Linked DNA regions of Homo sapiens: region 1 is linked to region 2. Evidence: fine-mapped expression QTL. Tissue or cell type: monocytes after muramyl dipeptide. Region 2 holds a variant in brackets; the other region holds the start of a gene. All regions are shown on one strand. Distances are between the middles of the regions.

Evidence for each region. PIP is the estimated chance that this variant, and not a neighbour inherited with it, causes the effect. A credible set is the group of variants that fine-mapping cannot tell apart.
Region 1: FADS2 starts here. The variant in region 2 is the best candidate, but not a certain one, in a credible set for the expression of FADS2 in monocytes after muramyl dipeptide (Kim-Hellmuth 2017, PIP 0.74).

What each region holds. Positions count from the first base shown.
Region 1 is chr11:61,826,842-61,829,525 of GRCh38, reverse strand. It overlaps FADS2 (fatty acid desaturase 2), which reads right to left and starts at 1,226. Exons shown (of 12, transcript NM_004265.4): 1 at 929-1,226. The coding sequence starts at 1,135. RefSeq lists silencers at 1,161-1,260, 1,281-1,380, 1,501-1,940 and enhancers at 1,532-2,209, 2,210-2,684.
Region 2 is chr11:62,477,542-62,480,225 of GRCh38, reverse strand. It overlaps a transcript of AHNAK not described here. Among named protein-coding and RNA genes, the nearest start is that of SCGB1A1, 60 kb to the right of the region's middle. The variant C/A (reference allele first, on the strand shown) is at 1,350.

The DNA.
Region 1 (2,684 bases), 650 kb after region 2:
CGGTGCGGGTAGCTGGTGCGGGGTAATCACTGAGCCACGCATTTGGTGGGGGTAAGGTGGGCAGCAATGGCTCCAGAGAGGCCCACAACCTTTAGGAGTGCAAGATGAGGGAAGGGTGTTCTTGGCAGGATTTAAAAAGAGAGAGCCATTGAGTTGAACGCCCGAGAGTAACCTCGAGTGCAGACGGACCTGTTGCCAAGCCAGTCTAGTGCTGCTAAATCCACCGGCTCAAGGCCTCACTCGACCTGGGCTTTGCAAACCCCAGGCCGTTCTCCTTCCACCAATCCCGGACGCCGGTCCCCAAGAAGGCCGGCTCGAGCTTGGGGTGAGTCTAGATAATCCCTGGAGCGTGGGAACCCGAGCTGCTGGGCGGTTTTTCCCAGGTGGCCATTGAGGAACTTCTTAGACAAGAGTCCCAGCAGGAGCGATCTCCGGCCGGGGACGAGCTTTCCTTCTCGCCACCCAGTCTGGATGGAGAGTGCGGGACAAGCGCGGAGTCCCACACCTGGCTGCCTGCGCTCCCGCTCCTTTCAGCGGCGCGCAGGGGCGGCCATCTTCCCCGCTGGGGGCGCCAAAGCCGTCTGGCCCGAGCGCCCCTCTTGGGGAGTCCCTGCCTCCAGACAAACCCCGAGGAAGGGGAGGACGCGTGGGTCCCGGCGCGCGCGGTAGATGCTTGCCCTGTTCTCCACCGCTGGGACTTTCACCGCAGCGCCGCCTCCCCGGGTCCCAGATCCGGTCTCCACCCCAGTCGGCCCAGAGGAGGAGGAGGATTGGGGAGGGGGTACGAGTGCAATAGATGCACTTTCCTTCCCTACAGGACGTCCCAAGCTCCATTCAGCGCCGGAGGTCTGTTTGGCCCACGGGGAGCCAGGGATCCTGACTCCGCCTGCAGCAGAGAAGGGTGGCTGGGGCGCCCCCAGACCCTTACCGTTGCATCTTCTCCAGCGTAGTGCCCGATGACCCGCTGGCCCCCCGGGTGCTGGATGGACCATTTGGTGATGTTGTAAACCTTGCGGTCAATGACCAGCCACCTGTCGGTGCGCAGGTTATGCTTCTGAATCTCCTCCCAGCTGAAGGTGGGCACCGACACCTCGCGCTCGGCGGCCCCCTCGCCCTGGTTCCCTCCCTTCCCCATGCTGCCTGCCGACTGTGACGCCCCGTGCACTGCGGCCTCCCCGCGCCGGCTGCTCGCTGCACAGACGGCTGCCTCCCAGCCGGTGTGTGCAGCCCGGGCCCTCTTCGCTTTCGGCTTTTGTCTTCTCCTACTCCTCCCACCGCGCCCCCTCCCCCAGCCTTCTCGCCTGCGCTCGGGAGTGTCCCTGCCTTCCTGGCGGAGGATCCCTGGCTTCCCAGTGCCCCCAAGCGGTCCCCTTCCTCCGCCCCTCCCTCAGCCCTCCCGCTATGGACTTTTGCCTCCAGTAAAAACTCCCCGGGAGCTCAGGGCCTCGACACCTCCTCTGCCCGCCCCTCCGGCTCCCCCCGCCTCGGGTTCCACATCCTCCCGCGTTCCCCGCCGCCCGAGTTTCCACAGCGATCAGCAGAGCGCCTGCACCAATCCGGTCGCGTCGCCCCGCCTGCCATTGGCCCAGGAGGATCTTTCGAAGGCCAGCGGGCTGGAGCGGCGGGTCCCCGGCTCCCCCGCCCTCCCGCGTGGAGTCGAGCCCTGCTGCGAGGCAGGCTACGTGTCCGACCTCCTCCCTCCCCCACTCTCCGGCCCCGGGCGCCGGAGGAGATCCTAGAGGAGATCCCGGTGGGGGCAACGAATGGGCTCCGCGCGCTCCGGGGCGCGTGCGCGCACGCCCGGCGCTCTGGGGGTTTGCACCTGATGCCGACACAAAGCCGGCGCGGCCACCAGGGTGCCAGCAAGCGGCCGGGCGGGTGGACCGGCGGGCTGCGGGGCACTCAACTCCAGGGCCGGCTTGGCTAGGTGACGCCCTTCCTTGGCGCGCGGCAGTCGAGACTCCAGTATCCCACATTGTCCGCGCCATCCACATTCTGGCGCCTTTCTGCAACCTCCCTAGAGACACAAGCCGGCCTTGGATTAGAGGGCTTTGAACCCTCTAGTCAGACAATCTTAGAAAAGAATTGCGGAACCTCTGCTCTGCTTTCTTGGTCTGGGCGCCATGGCTGCGGTGAGGGGGAAGGGAGGGGAAGGCAGAGGAAGGGGGCGATGAGGAACTGGCGCGGTCCTTGCCCTGGTCTCAGTAAGCTCAGTCTCTTTGGGAATCGTGGAAGCAGACACATCATTGGGCAGTGATGTTGTGCAGACTCCAGCAAATAAAGACTGCCGTATCGAAGGGATAGGAGGAGGGTTAGGTCTTTTAGGCGTGGGGCAAGAGACAGGCCCCTCAGACCCCAGCTGGATGGGGCGGCTTAGTGCCGGGCGTCCTGGGGGAAATGGGCCTGACTGCATCCGGAGGGCTAACGGGACACGTGGGAAGTAAGGATGAACAGAGAGGGTGGGGTGCACGAGGCTTGGGAATCACTAGAGGAGTTATAGGGCCCTCAGATTTCAATGGGATTTACAGGTGCCTGTGTGCTAGCACACCCTAATCATTAGATTCTCATCACAGGCTGAGAGGTAAACAGGACGCATATTATTACATCTCACTTGAAAATGGAGAGCCTGAGATTGAGAGAGATGGTCAAACGGGCCCTGCCCAATCTAAATTTCACAGCAATGC
Region 2 (2,684 bases):
AGGATCCGAGGCAAGATTGGCAGGGCTGAGGGTTCTGTGGCTGTCACTGTCCAGGACAGCTGGCCACTGGGTCCAGCCTGCTCCCAGCAGTGGGCACAGGCAGGGGAGCAGGGCCCTGACCTTCCTGGCAGGTGGCAGGGTCCGGGTGAGGCTTCCCAAGCTCTGCCTGCTACCCTCCTGCTTGAAATCAGGGGTGAGGGGTGTGAGGCCCTCCTATAAATCCGGCAGAACCCAGCCAGAAGGAGCACTGGGACCTCATCTCCCTCCCCTCTGGATTCCAGCTCCCCGGAATGGGCCAAGTTTGCCTTAACTTTTTATTGAAGTGAAAAACAGTCAAGATATGAATATTCCCTAAAGCCACTTTGGAATACTTTCAAGAATAGTTTCACAGTTAAACAGGCAAAAGGACAAGATTGCATGCAGGAATGGATCACCCACTTGGAGAGCCGGTTCTGGAAAGAGAGCTTTGATTTCATGCCTTATCTGTTTCGTGCGTCGTGGAAGAAGGGAATGGAAGGCATTTGGTTGGGGAGATGGAGACCTGCTGCTTGTATGGGGTATTCCCCTCTGCATGGTGACAGGTTCTTAGGGAAACATCTTAATAGAAGGCTTATGAGCAGTCTGGCAAACTTCCCACCCTCCTTGTACCCAAGACAAAAATGTTGGCCTGACAAAAATATTCAGGTAATTTTCTAGTATTTTTAGCACTTCGCAGACCCCAAACTACCCAAGTAATGGCTCTCTTAAAAAAAAAAAAGGGGCTGGGCAGGGTAGCTCACGCCCGTAATCCCAGTACTTTGGGAGGCTGAGGTAGACGGATCACCTGAGGTCAGGAGTTCGAGATCAGCCTGACCAACGTGGAGAAACCCTGTCTCCATTAAAAATACAAAATTAGCCAGACGTGGTGGTGCATGCCTGTAATCCCAGCTACTCGGGAGGCCGAGGCAGGAAAATCACTTGAACCTGGGAGGCAGAGGTTGCAGTGAGCCGAGATCGTGCCATTGTACCCCAACCTGGGTAACAAGAGGGAAACTCCGTATCAAAAAAAAAAAAAAAAAGAAAAAAGAAAAAAAAAGAAAAGAAAGCAAAGCTCTTAGAAAAGTTGTCCTACTATCTTATTACAATAAGTGCTGAAGTAGACAGACTCTGTCATCTTAACTGTGTCAACATTAATGAAAAGAAATTAGCCGAGCGCAGTGGCATGTGTCTGTAGTTCCAGCTACTCAGGAGGCTGAGGCAGGAGAATCACTTGAATCCAGGAGGCGGAGGTTGTAGTGAGCTGAGATTGCGCCACTGTACTCCAGCCTGGGAGACAGAGCAAGACTCTGTTTTAGAAACAAACAAACAAA[C/A]AAAAAAAATTAGTGAAACAGTGTCATCAAAGGCCTAGGAGGGATTTTTTTAATGGTGTATTAATGGTGTACATTTTCCTCTTTTGCTCTTTTCTTTTCTCTCTCTTTTTTTTTTTTTTTTTTTTTGAGGCAGGGTCTCATTCTGTCACCCAGGCTGGAGTGCAGTGGTATGATCACGGCTCACTGCAGGAGGATCGATCTCCTGGGTTCAAGCGATCCTCGCACCTCAGTCTCCTGAGTAGCTAGGACCACAGGCGTGTGCCACCATGCCCAGCTAATTTTTGTCGTTGTTGTTGTAGAGATGAGGTCTTGCCGTGTTGCCTAGGTTGGTCAGGAACTCCTGGGCTCAAGCAATCTCCATCTCCAAGCCCCAACCTTGGCCTCCCAAACTGCTGGGATTGCAGGAGTGAGCCACCGGCACCCGGCACCCTGTCCTGTTTTCTAGGCATTGCTAGGGGCAATAATTTGGGAGAAGTAAAGGACAAGAACAAAATCAAAGAAGAGGCATTCTTGTATCATTGCTCTCCTGAATTTGTTGGGGAGCCCTGGGGTGAGCCCTGTCAGGGGCTGGAGGGTCCAGTCTTAGTGTGAAAAGACCTCAGGGGCTCAGCCCCAGCTCCTGCTTAGCCCCTGGGCCCTAGCTGAGAAGAAGAGCGAATGTGTGTGCTGACCAGACCTGACCAGATCTGCTGGGTGAGGCTGCGGGTGGTGGTGAGAGGCCATTCTAAGAAACCACCTGGAATAGTGGGGGAGGAGATGGGAGGCCAGGGGCTCTGCTCTTAAGATAGCACTGAGTCCTGCGGAGAGGAATTCCTGGGAGGATTTTGAGTCCACCTGACTTCCCTTTGCTCTTGGTGTACAGGTCCCGGGCTTCACCACCCTGGCCTTCTTTCGCTTCCTCAAATGTTCCAGAGGCCTCTGTACCTATACACATGTTACTCCTTGGCCAGGAAGGCCCCCCATCCCCTAAGCCAATTATCTTCCAGGTTTCTGCACAACCATCACCACCTCTGGAAAGCCTTGGCCCAGGGCTTGACTGGGATCCCCCTGCTTTTTATAACTTTTTTTTTTTTTTGAGATGGAGTTTCACTCTTTTGCCTAGGCTGGAGTGCAGTGGCGCGGTCTCAGCTCACTGCAACCTCCGCCTCCCGGGTTCAAGTGATTCTCCTGCCTCAGCCTCCCTAGTAGCTGGGACTACAGGCGCCGGCCACCATGCCTGGCTAATTTTTGTTATTTTTAGTACAGAGGGGTTTCACCATGTTGGCCAGGCTGGTCTCGAACTCCTGACCTGTGATCTGCCCGCCTTGGCCTCCCAAAGTGCTGGGATTACAGGCG